Regions from separate parts of the Homo sapiens genome. Here region 1 is linked to region 2. Evidence: fine-mapped expression QTL. A gene starts in region 2. The other region holds a variant in brackets. All regions are shown on one strand. Distances are from middle to middle.

The links.
Region 1: its variant is fine-mapped to the expression of FBXL15 in whole blood (INTERVAL, PIP 0.94).

What each region holds. Positions count from the first base shown.
Region 1 is chr10:102,246,260-102,257,774 of GRCh38, forward strand. All of the region lies in intron 1 of GBF1 (golgi brefeldin A resistant guanine nucleotide exchange factor 1), which reads left to right. Among named protein-coding and RNA genes, the nearest start is that of GBF1, 6.5 kb to the left of the region's middle. The variant A/G (reference allele first, on the strand shown) is at 5,301.
Region 2 is chr10:102,413,625-102,425,139 of GRCh38, forward strand. FBXL15 (F-box and leucine rich repeat protein 15) reads left to right here and starts at 7,212. Exons shown (of 4, transcript NM_024326.4): 1 at 7,212-7,558; 2 at 7,730-7,883; 3 at 8,163-8,668; 4 at 9,180-9,512. The coding sequence starts at 7,506. The coding sequence ends at 9,369. It overlaps PSD (pleckstrin and Sec7 domain containing), which reads right to left and starts at 5,161. Exons shown (of 17, transcript NM_002779.5): 1 at 5,077-5,161; 2 at 2,761-3,497; 3 at 2,393-2,495; 4 at 1,239-1,605; 5 at 145-573. The coding sequence starts at 3,414. It overlaps CUEDC2 (CUE domain containing 2), which reads right to left. Exons shown (of 9, transcript NM_024040.3): 2 at 11,491-11,515; 3 at 11,025-11,168; 4 at 10,875-10,936; 5 at 10,640-10,770; 6 at 10,372-10,554; 7 at 10,174-10,235; 8 at 10,033-10,093; 9 at 9,625-9,948. The coding sequence ends at 9,802. RefSeq lists enhancers at 7,130-7,599, 8,510-8,839, 9,070-9,129, 9,320-9,369, 9,460-9,519 and a silencer at 7,840-8,009.

The DNA of each region.
Region 1 (11,515 bases), 170 kb before region 2:
GTGCACCCTAGAATCAGGTTGTCAGCAGAGGGACGTGTGGAAGGCTTGAGGTTATAGCAGCGCAGGGAACTGGGCTATGAGAAGGCTTCCCTCTTACAGGACAGCTCAGCTGCCAGTCTGGGTCTGTATGTAAACACTATACTTATCTTCTGGGCCTGTTTGTTCCTTTATACAATCTTTCACAGGCATTCTTTTGTAGTGTATGTTTTTGTTGACATTTTTCTCTCAGATCTTCACTAAGGAGATGAGGCTTAATCATAAGGAAACCACTCTATTATGACATATTTGACTGACAGCAGAGAGAGATATTTGAATACTGGCAAAGTTTGGTATTGTCGGCCTATTATGTTTAGTGGGCAAAAAGAGTCATGAGAGATTTTCAGCCAATTGTAGGGTCAGAGCCCCAGAGTGAATGATGGAACATAACCCTAGAGAGTAGTTTATGGCACTGTGATGACCTTTGATAAACTGCTGTGTTGTAAAGCTATAAAAGTCCACCAAGGGTAACGAATGCTTTTAGAAATAAGGAATAGTGTAGATGGTGTTTTTTAATGCACAATGTGGAAACTTGTGCATTAATTCAGGTATAAAAGGCACTCTAGGCCCTGTGGAGGATACAAATGGAAAGGTCTGCTTTGGGACTGCTCAGTTAATGCACTTCTTAAAAGTAGTAGCATGTATGTGCAGTGGCCTAGCTAGAGCATGTAGTAGGTTAAGAGCAGGATCAACCTAATACCTTTTGGTATGTAGTGGGCACTCAATAAACGTTATCTCTATCTGGGATTAGTTTCAGTATGTGATCAGGACTTGTGGCCTGCTTTTGGCCCTGGCAGTCAGGAACACTTTGCACTTTTGCATGATGAGGTAGTAACAAGGAGGATCAAAACCTCATAGTGTCAGAAGAGAAAACTATTTAGGATCTTGGAATGACTAACTCAATTTTTCCTACCTTTGTCCTTATGAAATTGAAATTTCATAATTTCCCTTTTCCCTTCCTACCTTCGTCCTTATGAAATTGAAATTTTTGTGTGTGTTGGGAGAAGGGGGATGGCATTATTTATGCTTCACCTGTGTTGATTTAGATGGAAATGGTACAGGAAACTATTTGCATTTTAACTTGCTGATCTAAGTTGTAGAATTCCTCCCCTCTCCCCGCCCCCAAGAAAGTAGTTGAACGCAGCAAATGAAATGACATACCTCAGGAGGTACCCAGGTTTGATGATCCTGCCTTGCTCACTTGGGCCATTGCCCTGTTGAGTTGATATGCTTTGCATAACAGGCAATCTAGTCTCTGGGTAGGCAGTGTGATCAATCCAGGATCCAGTCATCCTCAGTTGAGCCTAAGGGTGACTATAGAGGCATCAAAACGTTTTCTCTTTCTCTCTCTTTCTTTTTTTTAATCCTAAATGTCATTTCTAGATAGGAATAATTTTCTAGATAGGAATAATTCCCACTCCTACCCACAAATCAGAAAATTCATCCTTCAAATACAAGTCCCAAGCTTGTATTTGAGCTTCTTTTTAATGGTGTTTGTAGACAGTATGTTCCAGTCTTGACAGTGATGCTCATTGGCACAGTGGGAACTCAGGCTATAGACATATCTCCTCAGTAGCTGGGCACCAATCCCAGTTTCAGCTCAGAGTTCTCAAAGTTACACTACTATTTTATTTCCCTCTTTTCCAGAAGTCAGGATGACTGCCACTTTCACATAATAACCTCATTGATAGGGTACTTAGACTGGCTGCTGTGGGCAGCTAAAGAGGAAGAAGACACAGCTCTTGCTTTTGAGGAGACTCTATTTATAGAGTACTCACTGCAAGGATCACCCTAATCTTTGTATGACACTTCTCATTGATTGATCACACACTATATCCCTGTGGCTCTGTGTGACTGATTAGAATGATTCTGTTGTTGGGTTAATGGTGGGATTGAATTTAAGGGTGTATGTTTTTGTTGACATTTTATCCTCAGGCTAGAAGAGCTATGTAAATATAATGAGCTGCTGTTTAGCTGTTACTCTTTTTTTTTTTTAATATTTCAGTATGTTCAACTGCAGTTGTTTAACTAAATGAAAATATAATAAAGCAGTGTGCTGATTTGGAACCCCAATAATAATAGAAGTGATCATAGAAGTGATTATTTGTTCTAGTAGTAGTGGAAATTACGATAGATGCAATAGTAGTGTAAATGATCATGGAAGTATGATGGCAAAGTAATGGTTTGCCAATCATATAAACCAGGGGTTACGAGCTCATGTGCCTAAATGCCAGGCAGGTAATGTAAATGAGTTAATTGAGTCCCATGGGAATGTATTAGGATTAGTGGGGACTGTTGTGTACTGGACAACCCATGCCTTTATTTTTTTTTTGTCTTTAATTTTAATTTCTTTTTATTGAGACAGGGTCTTGCTCTGTCACCCCGGCTGGAGTGCAGAGGAACGATCACAGCTCACTGCAGCCTTGACCTCTGGGCTCAAGTGATCTTCCTACCTCAGCCTCCCAAGTAGCGGGGAACACAGATGTGCGCCATCATGCCCAGCTAATTTTTTAATATTTTGTAGAGACAAGGTCTCACTGTATTGCTCAGGCTGGTTTCGAACTCCTAGACTCAAGCAGTCCTCCCACTTTTGCCTCCCAAAGTGCTGGGATTTTAGGAATGAACCACCATGCTCAACCCATTCCTTTATTTAGAAGAGCCAACTGCTCCTTTTTCAGCAGATTGTTACTGTTTTAGAGTGCAGGCACAGAATGACCACTCTTTCTATTTTTCAGGAGAAACTGGAAATTTAGATCATTGTGTTTTCTAATTGTTGGAAACTAGTTAAAAGTATTTTTAAGCCTTTTTCAGGCCAAAGAAAATATGTCTGTGGACTGGATTCTGCCCAATGGTTACTGGATGATGACCCTCAATAAACAAAATGGGCAGGCCTTATGAGACTTAATCACTGCAGTTCTCTATACATAATCACATAGACTTTTTTTCTTTGTCCTACTCTGCCAGCTGTCACCTTTGTACCTTGGGTGCCCTGAGTGGCTAAAAGATGGAGTGAGATAGAGAAGGTTTGTTTTATTTTTCATCTCCAAGCTGGCAGAAGGGACAGCTTTGGACATATTAGTAGCTTACCTTGTAAACGGTTTTTGAGATACTCTCAGAATCTCCACAGGGGGAGGAGATGGCATGCTAGAGCTGAGGTACCCTGGTCACCCGATTATCAGGTCTGGGAGGATTTTCCAGTGATGCATTGTCAGGGCACCAGCTTTTTTCCCAGTTTAACCTTCTTTTACTTCCACCCTTTAAGTAAATTTCTTGAGCTCAGTAAGTTGTTTCCTAGTTTAGTAACTTTGGTTATTCTCAATAAAGCACAGAACTATGATGTGTTCCTAGGCCAGCTCTGGAAATGTTAAAAGCTCTGCATCTTTAGTGTTTCTCTGGCTTTTTTTTTTTTTTTCTCTGATGGAGTCTTGCTCTGTTGCCCAGGCTGGAGTGCAGTGGTGTGATCTTGGCTCACTGCAACCTCCGCCTCCTGGGTTCAAGCAATTCTCCTGCCTTAGCCTCCCAAGTAGCTGGGACTACAGGTGCACGCCACCACACCCAGCTAATTTTTGTATTTTTAATAGAGATGTGGTTTCACCATATTGGCCAGGCTGGTCTTGAACTCTTGACTTCGTGATCCGCCCACCTCGGCCTCCCAAAGTGCTGGGATTATAGGTGTGAGCCAATGCGCCCAGCCTTCTCTGGCTTTTAAAGGTATTGAGTGAACATAAACCTTAGAAGGGCCTATTGCTGGTCCTTTAGCTCCCTACTACCATCTACCTTTTCAGAAAGTCCATCAGTTTTTCTTGGTTTGCCCAGCTCTGTATTAGACACAAAGGCATCATGAAAAAGAAAAACAAAATTGCGCTTTTGCCTTTGGAGAATTTATTTGCTAGTTGGATAAGAATAATTTTTTTTTGAGACAGAGTCTCTCTCTGCCACCCAAGCTGGAATGCAGTGGTGTGAGATCTCGGCTCACTGCAACCTTTGCCTCTCAGGCTGAAGTGATCCTCCCATCTCAGCCTCCTGAGTAGCTGGGACTATAGGTGCGTGCCACCACGCCTGCCTGATTTTTGTGTTTTTTGTAGACACAGGATTTTACTATGTTGCCCAGAGTCCAGTGGTGTCATCATAGCCCATTGCAGCCTTGATTTTTTTTGGCTCAACTGATCCTCCTACCTTAGGCTCCCTAGTGGCTGGAACTACAGGCATGTATCACTATGTCCCACTAATTTTTTTTTTTTTTTTTTTAATTTATGTTGCCTAGGCTGGTCTCTGACTCCTGAGCTCAACCATTCCTCCTGCTTTGGCCTCCTAAAGTGCTGGGATTAAAGATGAGAGCTACTGCACCTGGCCAAGGAAATGTTTAAAAGTGATTAAGAGGCCGGGCGTGGTAGCTCATGCCTGTAATGCCAGCACTTTGGGAAGTCAAGGGAGGCAGATCACCTGAGGTCAGGAGTTAAAGGCCAGCCTGGCCAACATGGTGAAACGCTGTCTCTACTAAAAATATAAAAATTAGCTAGGCGTGGTTGTGGGCGCCTGTAATCCCAGCTACTCGGGAGGCTGAGGCAGGAGAATCACTTGAACCCTGGAGGTGGAGGTTGCAGTGAGCCGAGATTGCGCCACTGCACTCCAGCCTAGACGACAAGAGCGAAACTCTGTCTCAAAACAAACAACCAAACAAACACAAAACCAAACCCCATAAAAGTGATTAAGAAAAAAAAAAAAACCACTTAAACACTAGTGTACTAAAAACAGCTATTTAGAGCCAAAGAAAATAAGGCATATATGAAGAATTGACAGTTACATTAAAAATTATATATTTCACAAAAATGTGAATGTGCAAATAACACTTAAGGAGATGTCAGGAAGATAGACGTGAAAAAAGAAGCATTATGATATGGCTGGTAGGTAAATGTGGGTTCTTTTTACCTGTATGGAAGGTTTGTAACTTCTGGTAGAGAAGCAAATATATATTATCAAAAAAAGGTTTGCCAGTGTGGCTCAGAGTTATTGTCTTCTATGAAGTCATTTTTCTCATGAGGTGGATGTGTGCTGTACCACTCTTGAAGAGTCAGTCTTGATGTTATTTCATTTGTTCATCTAGTATTTATTGATCATTTTTCTTACTATGTGTCAGGCTTTGGAGATAAAAGGGTAAATAAATCATGGTCTTTCCCCCTGAGATAGAGCCTGATAGTCCCATGGTGGTGATACACTAAATAAATAATTATAAATTAGTATAAGATGTGTTTATTTTTATTTTC[A/G]TTTATTTATTTGAGGCAGAGTCTCACTCTGTCACCCAGGCTGGAGTACAGTGGCACGATCATACCGCAAGGCAACCTGGAACTCCTGGGCTCAAGTGATCCTCCTGCCTTAGCCTCCCAAGTAGCTGGGACAACAGGTGTGCGCCACCACACCTGGCCAATTTTTCTTTATGTTTTGTAGAGACAGGGTCTCGCCATGTTGCCTAAGCTGGTCTTGAACTTCTAGGCTCAACTGATGCTCCCTCCTTGGCCTCCCAAAGTGCTGGGATCACAGACATCAGCCACTGTCCCCAGCCAAGATATGTTTAGAGATAACTACAAAGTGCTGTGGGTGGCCGGGCATGGTAGTTCATGCCTATAATCCCAGCACTTTGAGAGGCCGAGGCAGGCAGATCACTTGAGGTCAGGAGTTTGAGACCAGGAGTTTGAGACCAGCCTGGCCAACATGGTGAAACCCCAACTCTACTAAAAATACTCTGCTAAAAAAGTGGAAAAAAGGGCTGGGCGCAGTGGCTCACACCTGTAATCCCAGCACTTTGGGAGGCCGAGGTGGGCAGATCACCTGAGGCCGGGAGTTTGAGACCAGCCTGACCAACACGGAGAAACCTCATCTCTACTAAAAATACAAAATTGGCCCGGCATGGTGGCGCATGAATGTAATCCCAGCTGCTGGGAGGTTGAGGCAGGAGAATCGCTTAAACCTGGGAGGCAGAGGTTACGGTGAGCCGAGATTGTGCCATTGCACTCCAGCCTGGGCAACAAGGGGGAAACGCTGTCTCAAAAAAAAAAAAAAAGTGGAAAAATAAATAAATAAATAAATAAGTGGTTTTAAGATTGTTCTTAGAACCACTGTGATATTCTGACTCCCTCATTGACTTTTGGATGGAATGAGTAAGGGTTTATCAGGTGGACAAGAGTGAGAAAAAACATTCAGAATAGAAAGGGAGCTTCATATGCAAAGGCAAAGAGGCAGCAAAGACCATGACTTTAAAAAGTAGGAATGATGTGGCGTGGTGGCCCACACCTATAATCCCAGCATTTTGGGAGGCCAAGGCAGGCAGATTGCTTTGAGCTCTGGAGTTTGAGACCAGCCTGGGCAACATGGCAAAATGTTGTCTCTACAAAAAATACAAAAAAATTAGCCAGGCATGGTGACTCATGCCTGTAGTTCCAGCTACTTGGGAGGCTGAGGTGGGAGGATCGCTTGAGCCTGGGAAGCAGATATTGCAGTGAGTCAAGATTGTACCACTGCACTCCAGCCTGGGCGACAGAATGAGACCCTGTTTCAAAAAAAAAAAAGGAACTTTTTAACTTTTTAGGGTCTTTTATTTTATTTTATTATTATTATTTTTTGAGCCGGTGTCTTGCTCTGCTGCCCAGGCTGGAGACCAGTGATGCAATCTTGGCTTACTGCAACCTCCACCTCCTGGGTTCAAGCAATCCTCCTGCCTCAGCCTCCTGAGTAGCTGGGATTACAGGCCCCTGCCATCATGCCCAGCTAATTTTTGTATTTTTAGTAGAGTGGGGGTTTCACCATGCTGGCCAGGCTGGTCTCAAACTCCTGACCTCAGTTGATCTGCCTGCTTTGGCCTCCCAAAGTGCTGGGATTACAAGCATGAGCCACTGCCCCCAGCCGAGGGGCTATTTTAGACAAAGAATATGTGTAGCTTATATGGGGCACCAATGGCTGCCACCCAGCTTGAAAAATAACATCACCAAAACTGAGGCTGCATGTATGTATGCCCTTCCCTGTTAGTTCCCCCACACTCCCTGCCGCTTGCCACTATTCTCAATTTTTTTGTGTGAGCTTCTCTGGGGTATAGTCCTAGAAGTGGAATTGCTGAAATATAGGATATGAAGTGCTTTAGCTTTGTAAGATAATGCCAAATTGTTATTCAAATTCATATTAATTTAGATACATACCAGCCACTTGGTCTGCATTTTTTACCAACTTAAAAACAATTTTTTTTTTGAGACAGGGTCTTACTCTGTTGTCCAGGCTGGAGTACAGTGGTGTGATCGTGGCTCACTGCAGCCTTGACCTCCTAGGCTCAAGTGATCCTCCCACTTCAGCCTCTCAAGTAGCTGGGACTACAGGCACATGCCACCATGCCCTACTAATTTTTAAATTTTTTGTAGAGATGGAGTTTTGCTATGATGCCCAGGCTGTTCTCAAACTCCTTGGCTCAAGTGATCCTCCTGCATCGGCCTCCTAAAATGCTGGATTATAGGCGTGAGCACCTGGCCTTTTAAGTATTATCAGATTTAAAGTGTTTTGCTATTTCAGGAATGTAAAGTGGTATATCATTATAATCTTATTTTGTAATTTTCCTGATTATTAATGAAGCTAATAATCTTTTCATATATTTATTTGCTGTTTATGTTTCCTATTCTGTGAAACACCTATTCATCTCTGTTGCCAATTTTGGGGAGGGGTTATATGTCTAGTTCTTATAGTTTTGTAGCAGTTATTGTATACTCTGGATATTACTCCTTTATATTAGTTATATGTGCCTCAAATATTTTCTTCTGGTTTGTGCCTTATCTTTTCCCTCTTTTTTATGTTGTCTTTTGAACAGGCATTTTTAATTTTAACATGGTTGAATTCACCAATTTTTTAAAGAGGTTTTGCTTTTTGTTTCTTGTTTAGGTACTTCTCCCTTATGCTGAGTTTATAAAAATACTCTCCTGTAGCCAGGTGCTGTGGCACACACCTGTTGTCCCAGCTACCCAAGAGGCTGTTGTGGAAGGATTGCTTGAGCCTAGGAGTTTGAGTCCAGCCTGGGCAACATGGCAAGACCCTATCTCTAAAAAAAAATCAAAAAGAAAATATTCTCATATATTAGCTTCTAAGAGATTTCAAGTTTTGCTTTTCATATTTAAATAACCTGAGATATATTTTTGGTATTCCATTAAATAAGAATACAATTTATTGTTTCTTTTTCTCCTGCTTTTGTTGGATATAGACAGAGTTGCCAAGTGATACAGTGACTCCTCTTTGGATCCTGTTGAGGTAACTGGGATGCCACAAAGCACTAGGGGAATGTTCTAGACCCAGCTTTAAATGGACAGTGGTTTCAAGGGTACATGTTACTCAGAGTCTCTGGGCCAGTGGCTTATCTGGCTAAGGGTGTTAGTTGGTATTTATTTAGTTGTTCCCTCTCTTATTTATTTTTTTCTATTAATTTTTCATTTGTGTGGGTACATAATGAATGTATTTCTCTTGTTATTTCTGACACAAGATAAATCTTAAGTTCGTTTCTACTATACTTTTATGAGGTTTCTGCAGGCCTTTATGACCTTGTGACAAGGGATTTCTTGGCCATTGGCTACCAGGCAGCAAGTGGTTCATCAGTTTCCCATCTGAAGCTGAAGGGCACAACTGTTTGGAGATTCCCTGAGTGAGGGGACATACTCAGAGACCTAGAAGGAGATTAGGCAGCTCTGCATAGTACTTGAAAATAATTCCTCTTCATTCCCTAGATGTTTCTTTTTTTTTGAGACAGAGTCTCACTCTGTTGCCCAGGTTGGAATGCAGTGGCGCGATCTCGGCTCACTGTAACCTCCACCTCCTGGGTTCAAGTGATTCTCCTGCCTCAGCCTCCCAAGCAGCTGGGATTACAGGTGTGTGTCACCACACCTGGCTAATTTTTGTATTTTTAGTTGAGGTGGCGTTTCACCATGTTGGCCAGGCTGGTCTTGAACTCCCAACCTCAGGTGATCTGCCCACCTCAGCCTCCCAGAGTGCTGGGATTATAGGCGTGAACCACTGCGCCCAGCCCTAGATGTTTCTTTTTTACAATGATTTTTTGCTTAGACCTTTGCTGTCTTAGAAAGTGGTTACTTCTTTTCTAAAGGGCTTATTCATTTTTAGTCAATCAGCTGATTAAAATTTAAAAGTAGTTAATAGGTAATATATGTTTGTGACACAAAATTCAAAAGGTAAAAAAGAATATACAGAGAAAAGTTAGTCTTCCTTTCACTCCTCCACCACTCAGTTCCATAGTCATCCAGTTTCTTTCCCTGGAGGCCGTAACCTCTTAGCATTTTCTTACAAGTCCTTCCAGAGACCTAGAGCATATTCATCTTGCCTACATAATTTAAGGAAAGGGAAATACCAGGAAAGATTTAATCTTTTCTCTTCTGATACTTTAAATCATTTTTGAATATATCTTTCTTCTATTTCTAAGTTCTCCTCCTCCTCAGAAGAGAGCGTGGTTGTACATTCATATCATTGACACTTCTCAGAAGAGAACGTTGTTGTGTTCCTAGAGCATTTGGAAAGCAGATAGTCTTCTGAGATTAACCTAGTTTTTTAAATTGTCATTAATATAAATCTTGTGTTGGATTCCCTTGTGGACTGGGGAGCTGTCATGGGCATGGACACATTATTATTATTATTTTAAGACAGAGTCTCGCTCTGTTGCCCAGGCTTGAGTGCAGTGGCACGAACGCGGTTCACCGCAGCCTCAATCTACCGGCCTCAAGCAATCCTCCCACCGCAGCCTCCCTGGCAACTGGGACTACAGGTGTGCACCACCACACCTGGCTAATTTTTGTATTTTTTATAGAGACAGGGTTCGCCATGTTGCCAAGGCTGGTCTCGAACTCCTGGGCTCAAATGATCTGCCCACCTCAGCCTTCCAAAGTGTTAGGGATTACAGGTGTGAGCCACTGCGCATGGCCCCTGGACAAAATTTGTACCAGTTTCTTTTTCCTTTATCATGGTGGTTTTCATGCTTTTCACTTTCTTGGGGGGCCTCATCTTATGCAAAATATGCAAATTGAGCTACTTGCTAGGTACATTTCTTTCTCTATTATCTCTGGCTGTGTCTGTTTTTGTATCTATTCCACTAAACTGTATAAATGCCTCAAGGACATAAATTATATACCTCTTATCATTATTAATGTTTAATTATATTGATAGTACAGTAATACATTCTCTTTGTAAAAAAAAAAAATTTTTTTTTTTTTGGGATGGAGTCTGGCTCTGTTGCCCAGGCTGGATGGAGTACAGTGGCATGATCTCGGCTCACTTTAACCTCTGCCTCCCAGGTTCCAGCGATTCTTCTGCCTCAGCCACTCGAGTAGCTGGGATTACAGGCGCCCTCCACCACACCTGCCCAATTTTTGTATTTTGAGTGGAGATGGGTTTCACCATGTTGGCCAGGTTGGTCTCGAGCTCAGGTTATCTACCTGCCTTGACACTCCTGAAGTGCTGGGATTACAGGCATGAGCCACAGTGCCCGACCTTCTTGTAAAAAGTTAAAATATTACAGATCCAGCCTGGGCAACAAAGTGAGACCCCATCTCTACAAAAAGTACAAAAATTAGTTGGGTTGGTGGTGTGCGCCTGAAGTCCCTGCTACTCAGGAGGCTAAGGCAGGAGGATTGCTTGAGCCCAAGAGTTCAAGTCTGCAGTGAGGCATGACAGTGCCACAGGACTCCAACCTGGGTGACAGAGTGAGACCTTGTCTCAAAAAAACCCCAAAAGACAAAACGATTACAGATAAGGCTCAAGTATCCTCTGATTGCACCCTGTTTTCACAGCACCTTCTCTAGGAATAATTATGGTTATAAGTTTGGGTATATTAGCACAGACCTTTTATTTTATATTTACATATCATATTAATGCTTTCTTGCTGTCAGTTAATATGAGTTTTCAGAACTTTTCAAAGGTCTTGTCACTGTCACTGTCCAGTTTTCTGGAGCTGACTGGGCAGATTGGATGCAGTCATTTGTTTATATTTATATTTATATATTTTTAGAGATAGTGTCTTGCTCTGTGACCCAGGCTGGAGTGCAGTTGTGGGGTCATAGCTCACTGCAGCCTCGAACTCCTGAGCTCAAGTGATCCTCCCGCCTCAGCCTCCCCAGTAACTAGAACTACAGGTGTATGCCACCATGCCTGGCTAATTTTTTAGTTTTGTTTTTTTGGTAGAGACTGGGTCTCACTGTTTGCCCAGGCTGGTCTCAACTCCTGGGCTGAACTGATTCTCCTGCCTTGGATTCCCAAAGTGCTGGGATTGCAGGTGTGAGCCACTTCACCTTGTCTGGATGCAGCCTTTACGCTGACATTGCAACTGTGGTTCTAAACCAACACTATGCTTCCAACAACCTTTATTCTTTTCTTTAACTTGAATCTTTAAATTCAAGTTAAATTTTTATTGAGTAGATTAAAAAGAACAAAGGGAAGACTATATACTTAGGAGAGA
Region 2 (11,515 bases):
GAAAACAGGATCTGCATCCCTTAACCACCCCTACTCAGGGGTCAGGAATATAAACCAATCCTCACACTCAGGATCTGTCCCTTACAGCAGCTGTTTCTGGAGCCCTGGGGGCCTCAAGTCTGAGGGACAAAAGGAATTACTTACCTGCCAAGGGGTGCTGCCCCCAGCCCAAGGCTGTCCTCTGAGTGGCAGGGACTAGGGGGCTCCCTCCCTGGGGCCAGCTTGGCTCTGGCCTCTGCCTCCTCCTCCTCCCCTCTCTGTGTCCAAGGACCATCAGCAGCAGAGCTGGTACCAGAATCCGGTTCAAGAGGGGCAAGTGGGGCGGGAGCTGGTGGGTCGGGCCGGGGTGCAGGGGGTTGGGGAGGCAGCTCAAAGGTGAAGAAGGGGCTCTGGGTTGGGCCAGGTGAGGCCAAGGCCTCCAGCGAGGCGAGGCTGGTATAGGAGGTGCCTTTGGCCCGGTGTGACTCCAGGATGGCTTCGAACACACAACTGAAAGAGTCAGGCCCATCAGCCGAGGGGCTCGTCCCAGGTAGAAAGGGCACAGGTGACTTGAGAGGCATCCGGCTCCCTGGCCTGCAGGGGCAGGGAGAATCTCTGATTAGGGGCCCAGATCACAGGGCTGGGGCAGGATTTCACTGAACTCTCACACTGACTCTGCTAAGGGGATTATCATCCCCTTTTCACTGGCTCCAGCCCACTAACAAAAAAGAGCCTCTAGGGTAGGGCGCCAAGCTATTCAGTGCCCCCTGGGGCACACCAGCCCTACCAGTCCCCAGCACCCCATCCCCTCCCTCCCTGCTAATCTCCCTTTCTCCTCCTTTTCCGTGATCCGCTTCCCTTCTGCCATCCCATTTCTATTTCTAGCAACATCTTAGGAGAAGATGAGGCTCCAAGCGACACTGGGGTGTGAGACGGAAAGGAATGTCCCCACACTCCCCACTCTCCCACCAGGATCCAGGATCCAGACTCATGCTCCTGTGTTCCTGGGCTTGACTGTGGCCTCTGGCCTCTCACCCTGCCCCCTGTTCTGCTAGAACCCCTGGCCTCTTTGCTCCCCACATCCCCAGTGTTCTGCCAAGCCTCAGGCCTCTGTCTAGAATCTCCTGCTATACACACTGCCCCGCCAGCCCCACACCCATCTCTATCCCAGGCCCTTTGAGCCCGGCTCTGCCTGTGGGCCAGTGCGAAGGAGCAAGCCGCTTCCCTCTCCCACTTCCCCCTCCCACTTCCCCACTCACCGGGCCCCTTCAGAGGCCTCAAACACCTCGTCGTCCACATCTTCTTCCCCACCTGCCTCATCGTCGTCCTCATCCTCATTGCCACTGCCGAGGCTGGGATGAGGGCCAGGGAGTGGGCCGGGCCGTGGGGCAGGTGGGTAGGCAGTGCCTGGTGGGCCCTCAGAGCTGGGCTGACTTTCGATGGCCGAGTCGGCCTCCTCCCGCTCAGCCAGCACCTCATCGATGTCAGTCTCGCGGTAGCACCTCAGGGGCACCGTGTCCAGGTCTGTCTCGGAGTACTTGGCTGCTCGCCCCACAGCCACCCCAGAGCCCTGCCTTGAGCCCACCCCAGGTGGAGATGGGGGGGCCTGCTCTGGGGGCTTAGCACCTGTAGTGTGCATAGGCATCCAGGTCAGGAGGTTATCCACGTCAGCTCCCTGTCCTAATTCTGCTCTAGGATCTCTGCCCACTGCCTCATATTGACAGGAAGTTCTTTCACTGTCTAGCCACCATTCCTCCTGCTACATACTTAGCTTGTTCCTGGTGCCAGTGGAGCTCATTTTAAATCAAGTTCTTGTCAAATGGCTTTGAGGAGCTGGGGGAAGACCAGCCTTTTTCTGTCTTTTTTATTTATTTATTTATTTATTTTGAGACAGGGTCTCACTGTGTCACTGAGGCTGAAGTGCAGTGGTGCAATCATAACTCACTGCAGCCTTGACTGCCTGGACTCAAGGGATCCTCCCACCCAACCTCCCCAGTAGCTAGGACTATAGGTGCACACCACTACATCCAGCTAATTAAATTTTTGGTAGAGACTTGCTTGTTGTCCAGGCTGGTCTTGGACTCCTGGCTTTGAGCAGTCCTCCTGCCTTGGCCTCCCAAAATACTGGGGCCACTGAGCCCTGCTGAGCCTCTTTTCTACTCCATGGAATGCCCCTCAATATCCTTCTGTCCCCTCCCTCCATTACTCAGCTTCCTCCAGGTGCCCTGCCCAGTCCTATCCTCCAGCCTCCCATCATAGCGCAGATGGAAAGATTGAGGCCTGGGGAGACATTGGCTGACTCAAGAGCCAATTCCAAGGATTGGGGGAAGTTTGAAGGAGGGCTCCCTACTGAGCCTCAGCTGCTGTGGGGAAGGCCCTGCCCTGTTCTCCCTGCCTCAGTCCCAGGCCTTACCTGAGCTGGGGGGGTCCAAGGAGCCATAGAAGAATTCCCATTTGGCTCTAGCGATTCTCTGGGCATGAGAGGAGACTTCCCGGGGGGAGGACCAGGTATCCCCCTGAGCCAACGAGGGAGACACAGGCACCCAGAGATAAAGCCAGACATACAAGGACACAAGAATATGGGACAGAAACAGAAATTAAAACATGCATCGACAGAGATGGAGGTTCAGAGACACAGAGACAAACACAGAGGGCAAGAGAGAGGCAGATTTAGAACAGATTAAAGGATTCAGAGTGAACAGCAGACAAGCCCATGTCTGACAGGAGGCTGAGCCTTGCCCCTTCACTGGGGGCCCAGGGAGCCCAGGGGAAGTTGCATACCTGGTTCAGGAATCCAGTGTCAGCAGGTCCTCCGAAGAGTGTGGCCAGGCGCTCAGGGGGGCCCCCCAGCCCATTGGGGAGAGAGGAGTAAAGGCCATCTGCTCCAACCTGGGGTGGGGCTGGCGGCCCATGTACAAGGTTCCGGCTGCCAGGTAGGGCCGAGCCTCCTCTGGCGGGGAGTGGGTCTGATGTGGATGCTTCCAGCCGTAACTTCCGGTTGGAGCCAGGCCCAAGGGCTGGGGTGGGCCTGGGAGGAGAAACCCCACCCAGATCCCAGCTCCGACTCAAGCCCCCTGGAGCAGGTAGCCCATTCAGTGGCCTCACACTGGCCTTCTCCACAAAGCGGAAGATGACCACAGAGCTCTGGGCCCCGGGTGGGGGCTGCCCAGTGGGTGAAGAGGGTGCCCAGGGTGAGGGAGCAACACGGGGTGAGGGGGGGCCACGCAGAGGTGTACAGGGTGCTGTCACACGTCCCAGTTCCCGGCCTCGAGGACCTGGACCTGCCACTCGCCGTAGCAAGGAGCCTGTGCTGCCATACATGCTGGCTGGGGGGCTCTGGGGCACCGGGCCTTCGGGGAGCCAGCGGCGTGGGCATCGTGGTGGGGAGATGGCACAGTCGCCTTCCGAGCAGAAGCGCATGGCACCCTGGGCCATGCTGGGGCCGGGGGTCAGGCTGGGGGGGCAGGGATGGCGAGGCCAGGCGGGGAGTAAGGGGGCTGCATGCTCTTCAGACAGGCCTGTAAGAGAGGAAGGGGAGCATGGGGTGAACTGCCAAGGAGTTAGATGGATAGGACAGCAGAGATAGGGAAGGGAAAGTTGGCTAGGGCCTCTGAGTATCAGGGACCTAGCACACCCTGGTAATATGGGATCATTGATCCCACGCCTGGGGACTACTTCCATAGAGGCCTGACGAGAAAAGACTTATACACCCAGTGGGCCCCTGGCTCCTTTCCTTCTGCCTGAGGCCCTGAGCATCACCCTGGGAGGAGAGAGGAAGCAACTTCAAAGTTGAGTGAGCCCGGAGTTCTTATGGCACTTTGGAGCTACTTCTAGAATAGGGGAAGTTGGTACCCCACCCTCTGGAAAAGGGGTGTCAGCCAGCTGTCACCATCATACAGCCCTGTGACCCCTATAGTCTCTCTTATGGAGGCCCCTCACTCAGGGAAGGGAAACTCAGGCCTCCTGGAAGGAGAGGGAAGAGGAACAGGTGTTATATAGGGATGCTGAAGGGCTGAGAGGCACAGCATGGAAGTGGGGAGAAAAGCCTGAGCAGAGGCTCCTACCCCCAATATATACATACTGAGTGGGAAAGGGACATTCTTCTTTTTTTTTTTTTTTTTTGAGATGGAGTTTCGCCCCTGCTGCCCAGGCTGGAGTGGAATGGCGCTATCTCAGCTCACTGCAACCTCCGCCTCCCAAGTTCAAGTGATTCTCCTGCCTCAGACTCCTGAATAGCTTGGATTACAGGCGCTCAGCACTATGCCTGGCTAATTTTTGTATTTTTAGTAGAGATGGAGTTTCACCATGTTGTCCAGGCTAGTTTCAAACTCCTGACCTCAGGGGATCCACCCACTTTGGCCTCCCAAAGTGTTGGGATTACAGGCGTGAGCCACCGCACCCGGCCAGGGACATTCTTTTCTTCATACAGGTACAGACAGGCACCTACACACACACAAACACACACACACACACACACACACACACACGCACACACATACATAAGGACAAATATGTCAGTACACAGTTAAACACATTCATAGGCAACACCCTCTGGCACACACACAGACACACACACACACACACTGCTCAAAGACACACCCTCATGCACTCTCACAGTCATAACAAGTATGTGTGTAATGAAAAGGCACATGCTTGTTTTACACACACACCATCATCAAACAGGAACACACAAAGAGGTACCCAAATATATACACAAGCTGTCATTCTCCAGTGCACACAGAGGTCCAGGTGTATCAGACACTCACAGAGACCTACTGCTCACAGTCACATACACATACAGATGTACACATACAGATGTACACACTCAAGCAGGGACACACACCGTCCCCTCCCCCCCACCTACTGGGGTCTCTTGAGGGGAATCTGCACCCATATTCCTCTCCTCTCCCTCTCTCCCCAGGGGTAAGACAGATCCCGCCCAGGAGAGACCATAACCAGGTAAAGGGGCCTCTGGTGGCAATGCAGGGGAGGGGCAGAGGTCAGGAGTAGCAACCCTGCCAGGCAGGTTCCGGAAGCTCAACGGGGTCCCAGCGCATACCCGGTGCAGCCCCAACTCAATGCCACCTCAGTACTCACCGCTGCTCGCCCAGAGCTGAGACCGAGGAGAGACAGAGGAGAGGCTGGGCCCAGCTGAGCTGTGAAGGCAGCGCGGCTCCCGTTTGCTCCAGGCCCGCCCGCCTCTCAGTCCCTCCCCCTACCCCCTACGCGCCGCTCAGGCAACGCTAATCCCCCCCACCCCCCGCCCTCTCCCAGGGCCCAGAGCCCCGGAGGCTGCCAGCCCCCCTTGTCGCTAGGTCCCCGCTGGGCTCTCCCGCCAACCTAAGACCCGCCCCAGACAAGGAGGAGGGCGCATGGAACCCCTGGTTCTATTCCCCAGACCCTCACGTGCCCCACCCCACTTGTGTCCACGTCTCTCTCGCCCACCGCCCCTTGAGCCACACGTAAGGCCCGGCTGCACACGCGTGTCCCGCTCCAGACCCCACGCGTGTCCCTAGGAGGCTGCCACATGACCTGTTACATGCCACACGCGCTCCCGCCCCCACGAGCACGCGGCCGCGCCAAGCACACGGTATGGGTGTAGACTGGACCCGCCCCCTAAATCCAGGAGACCATCAACTATGGAAAGGAGATCTAGGGAACACCGTCTTGAACCCGCCAGGGGTTTTGAGTCTCGGACCCAGGAGATCCAACCCTGACCACCCTCCCAGGATGCAGCAGGGGGATGTTAAATCAGACTTCAGGAAGAACTTCCTTGCTGCCTGAGTTAGGTGTCGTCACGCCTGCCCAGGGGTAAGAGGTTAGACGGGATGAACTAGGGACCGGAAGACGTGGGGGACCGGCAACCCTTGTGCCCTTGGCCAGGGTAGAAGGGGGCCCTGCTATTTTAAGAAAGAGCCGCTGGAGTTACTATGGCAACTACTCTCTTTGGGAGGGCCAGGGCGGGCAGATGGTGACCTCGGAAGGAAGAAGGGGTCTGTTCGGGCAGTCAGGGGGCGCGAGGACGTGCGAGGCGGGGGCGCGCGGGGCTCACCGCGGGGAGGGGCGGCGCGGACTCCGCGTGGTGCTGAAGGGGACAGCGCCAGATTTGTCGCACTGCGCAGGCGCAGAGGCGCGAACAAAGAGGGGAGGGGGACGAGGCGCGCGGCCGGAGGTGGTGCGCGCTCACGTGGCTCTATCTTTGCAGGGGTCTGTCCTCCCAGCTACCCCCTCCCTAAGCAGGCTGAGGAAGAAGAGATAGCAAGCCCTCACCTAACTTGACCCCTTTCTTGTCTCTCCCCGCTGCTAGCTTCTCCCTTCTCGCTGCCTTGCGGGGTGGGGAAACGTGGAAGGAATTCTGGGAAAACCAGATGTCTGGGTTCTCTATTCCCGTCTGGCTTGATTCTGGACAAGGGGCTTCCTCTCCAGGGCCTCGGTTTCCCCATCTTTAAAATGGACTGATAGCATAGACCTGCCCACCTTTCAGAGGTGCCCGAAGCCTTGACGAGATAACAGATGAGAAGTGGTTTTCGTTGTGATGAGCCAGCTGAAGCGGTTGCACCGGAGCGCCAGACCGTCAGCGGTGCAGTGGCTCTCGCGTCCTTCACATCCCCCCACACCCATCCCGTGGATGATGGGGGAAGGCACTACTCCTGGGGTTCCCCGAAGCGGATCCTGGGACTGGGACCTGGGGACGCGGTGAGAGGCAGCCCTGAAGCTGAGTCCAGAGGTCTGGGGCGTCATTGTCCCAGGGCGGACCCAGCCCCAGACCCTACAACTAAACCCAAGGCCAGCCGAGAAGCACTACCACTGGCGGGCTGAGCTGAGCTCTCATTCTTCTTAGGACTCTGGACCTTTGGAGGAAATGAAAGGGACCCAGTTGGAAATATAGTCTTTCTTCGCGCCCCCTACATCTCTCTCCCCCGGCGGAAACGCGGCCCAAACTGTTACGAAGTGGAAGAGGCTGGATAGCTCTTCATAATTAATCAGGAATGGGAGGTTTGAGCAGGTTTACTTGATGAGGGAAACATTATAGCCTCGCCAATTCATTCATTATTTCAACAATTACTTATTGAACACCTGCTACGTGGCAGACAGTAAGAGCCTGGATAGTTTCTCCCCGTTTTTCAAAGTCGCTAAACGCGACCAGAGGGCAGAGGAGAGGCCGGTAACCTAAGAGTCCTGGCTCCGCCCCCTCCGCGTTTGGCCTTGCCTGCTCCTCCCACCACCACTTCGCTCAGAGGCGGCTACTGGCTCAAGAGGACGACAGAAGCCAGTCTCTGATGCCCACCGCATTCTCCAGCTTCAGGCCTCAAGCCCTGTAGCCGAGAAGGCGAGGCCTAATGTTACACCACCGGTCTGTTCCGCCTCCGTTTCGGGGTCCACCCGAAAAGCTTTCAGATCGGATCCTCGGTGAGACGGCACTCGATTAAATAGGTCTGTCTCTACAGGCCAAGGAGGCGGGTTTGGTGCGGCCACTCCAAGGCCAAAGCGAGAAAATCTTACTGCGCACGCGCAATAGACAGCCGATGGAGCCACCGATGGAGCCGTCCGGAGGGGAGCAAGAGCCCGGAGCCGTCAGGTACCGAGCACCGGAGGGGCCGAGAGGGAAGAGGAACCTGAGGGAGGGGAGCCGAGCCGGGGCTGGGTCTGGGGGCCGCTCTTGGGAGCTGGGGCGCAGGAACATAACGGAGGCGGACTCGCAGGTAATAGTGGCCCCGGGACGCCAGTGCCAACGCCCCTTTACTCGCAGGTTCCTGGACCTGCCCTGGGAAGACGTGCTGCTCCCACACGTCCTGAACCGGGTCCCGCTGCGCCAGCTGCTCCGGCTGCAGCGCGTTAGCCGGGCCTTCCGGTCGCTGGTGCAGCTTCACCTGGCCGGGCTGCGTCGCTTCGATGCCGCGCAGGTGAGCCGGGGGCTGAAGCCCCGCCCCTGCCTGGGTACCGCCCCGCCTCTAGCCCAGCCCCCAGCCCCGCAGTATGCCCTTCTGGACCCCCTTGGGCCGCCGGGGCTGCCCGGAAGGGATCCACGCACCAAAGGGCAAATACTCGGTAGCGACTCAGAGGGAAAGTGGGGTCTCTCCTGGGAGAGCAGGAGGCTGCCAGAAAAGAACTCAGGTCAGGGGTGCATAGGCGGCTGAGGAGTGCGGGACGGGCTGAGAGTTGGGGTGCCTCCCCGCCCGCAGGTGGGTCCGCAGATCCCGCGGGCCGCATTGGCCCGGCTGCTGCGGGATGCCGAGGGGCTGCAGGAGCTGGCACTGGCGCCGTGTCACGAATGGCTGTCAGACGAGGACCTGGTGCCGGTGCTGGCGCGGAATCCGCAGCTGCGGAGTGTGGCGTTGGGCGGCTGCGGGCAACTGAGTCGCCGGGCGCTTGGGGCTTTGGCCGAGGGCTGCCCACGCCTGCAGCGCCTGTCGCTCGCGCACTGTGACTGGGTGGACGGGCTGGCGCTGCGCGGCCTCGCTGATCGCTGCCCGGCCCTGGAGGAGCTGGATCTCACCGCCTGCCGCCAGCTCAAGGACGAGGCCATCGTGTACCTGGCGCAGAGGCGCGGCGCTGGTCTCCGCAGCCTCTCTCTGGCCGTCAACGCCAACGTGGGGGACGCCGCGGTTCAAGAGTTGGCTCGGAACTGCCCAGAACTCCACCACCTTGACCTCACCGGCTGCCTCCGCGTCGGAAGCGACGGTGTCAGGTGCCTGGGCCTGATAGGGCGGGAGGAGGGCAGTCACTTAGCCTCTGCTGGTATGGGGCGGGCTGTAGTTGTTAAAAGGCCGGACTGAGGGTTCTGAATCTTCCTGCAAACCACAGCACCCCCATTCTGAACAGAAAGGGCCTCTAGGATTGCCTAGGCCAGAGAGCCCATAGTTTAAAAACTTTTTTCAACCAATGTTTACACATTGGGAGATTTCACATAGAAAGTCGACTTCTGGCTTTTCTTCAACAAGGGGGAGATCTTGCAATCCTAGGCGGAGCTGAGGGCCAGGTTCCCCCCTTAAATGAGACAGGAAGTCTCCAGCTCACTGGAAGCCAATCCAGGCGCCTCCCTTGTGTAGGGACGGAAAAAGTATGCCCCTGCCCCGAGCTGGAGGGAGACCGGGATTTTGCCGGAGCCAGTCCGAGGCTGAGTGAGCCCGGGCCTCCACCTTACCCCACCAAAGGTGTGGTGGCCTCATGTCCCTAGCCTCACCCTGCTCCTCCCTCAGGACATTGGCCGAGTACTGCCCCGTGCTGCGTTCGCTGCGGGTGCGGCACTGCCACCATGTGGCGGAGTCCAGCCTGAGCCGCTTGCGGAAGCGCGGCGTGGACATCGACGTGGAGCCGCCGCTGCACCAGGCCCTGGTGCTGCTGCAGGATATGGCGGGCTTCGCACCTTTTGTCAACCTGCAGGTCTGACCCGCCTGCCAATCGGAGCACAGCTGGACTGTGTGGCTGGGGCCTGACACTGAGCTGTAGGGAAACTGAACTGTGAGGACCTCTGGTGAGAGGCCAGTGCCCTGCCCCACCCTGGAGCTTCAAATAAAGAGCTTTTTACCCCCTCTTGCCTGGTGCTGCCCTGTTGAAGATAGGGGATTCGAGGTTGGGGAGGAAAGGTCAGACAGGCATAGTATCCCAGTCCTGAGGCAGAAATGACCAGAATGCACTCACACCTTCCTTGGGCCACCTTTACTGTGCCCATGGAGGCAGCTCCGAGAGTAGGTTAACACTATGGAGCAAAGGAGTAGAGAAGGGGGACAGGAGTTAGGGGGCCCCTGTGTAGGGGTATAGGGCTCCTGCATCCCTCTGGGATCTGAGCCTAGAAGGCTCGGGCAGAGTCCGGCGAGTGCCTCAATGGAAGCGGTACTTTCTGGCTGGCTTGAGGTTGATGTATGTGGCCTTCATCTCCTCGGCCTCAGGGTTCCGCACATCTTTGAATCGCTCCCCTTTGGTGCTCACTACCTGGTTGTCGATGTATCGGATCAGCTTCTTGGGGGCCTGTCAGGCAATCAGCAGTGAGTGGCAGAAGCCAGGAGCCAGTCCCACCCATTCCGCATCCCCAGCAACCCTTAACTCTCTCACCTCCTTGGGAGCCATGGGCCGGTGAATCTTCTGATCCTCTGCGCTATCCACCATCATGTACCTGTCAAAAACTGGCTGGGTGAAGCTCCTGTCACCCTGGGAAGACCCTCTAGGGCCCAGCCCAGCCCAGCCCAGACTCACTTCTGCAGGATGAAGGACTTCAGCTCATCCTTTTGGGGGCCTCTGAGGCGTCTGGGCAGGTCCTGCAGAGAGGGGAGGCCTGGTCTAGGCCCAAGGGCACCAGCAGGGGAAACAGATGGGGATAGGTAGGGGTTGGGGCTTAACACCAAGGTGGAATGTAGCTGAGGCTACATGGTAGAGGGTGCTGGGAAAAGATACCTGGTTGGGGCCCTCCCAGGCTGCAGGCCCCTCTTCCTTTCCCTCTACCAGCATCTGCACAGCTTCTTCCAAGTCCCCCCGAGCTTTGGCCAGCACCCACTGGGCCTGCTCCACCGAACAGGTAGGGAACACCTCCAGGAGTACATCCACCCCTGGCAGAAGCTCCTCCTCAGCGCCAGTTGCCTAAGGGTACAAACGTTAACAAGAGGCAATACTCCCCCCTTTCCAGCCCCCTGGGTCCCTCATCGGTACCCTCCTCTACCAGTACCTCATCTTGGGTGTCTGCAGCAGCAGCAGCCGAAGACCTAGTCTCTTCTTTGAGCATTTCGGGCCGCTGCAGGGGCTCTGGGGAGATGGGCACCTGACCTTGGACACCAGAGCTCTGCGGTTGCAGGTTCTCTTAAAGAGGCAAAGAGAGCATCAGGTTTGCCAAGGCTCTGGGGAGCAGGCAGTTGGGGGAGCGGGATTATGAATCACTCAGGTGCCCAGAGCCCCAGACTCACCTTTGTTCCTGGCATCGCTCAGCTGCCCTGAGAGCTTCTGCATCATGTCCCCTATTGTGCCCCTGAAAAGATGAGGGCAGTGAGAGGATGACTCTGCCCACCCCATAATCAGCCAGCCCCTTCCTCCTCCTGGCCCTAGCCAGAACCTACCTGGGGATGTGGGCGAAGCCAGGCACATAGGCCTCCATCATCTCAGTGAAAGCCTCCATATCGAAGTTCTCCTCTGATGGGCCCGAGGGGCCCAGGTCCTCCAGGACCCCAAGCACATAGGAGAAGATGACCTCATCCAAGCCACTGCAGGAAGGGAACAGGACAAGCCCTGGGTAGGACACTGGATGCCTCCAGCACCCCCACCTATCCTGAGACTCCAGCCCTCAGCTTCATGGGGTCTATGAGCTAGACCTTTATCTTTAAGGCCAGAGAGTATAACCCCCTCCCTCAGAGCTATGGTTTCCCATCTGCCCAACAAAGGTGACAGGGACAGGATGAGAGGTAAGGCCTCTCAGCAAATCCTAGTCAGCCCTCCTGCTGTCTTTCCATCAGCCAGTACCCATAGTACTGCCCGGCAGCTCCAGCTCCAGCACTGACATGAGCCTTCCGGGGGACCCGTCTCTACCTGAGGTCGGCCTCCGGGAGGTGTG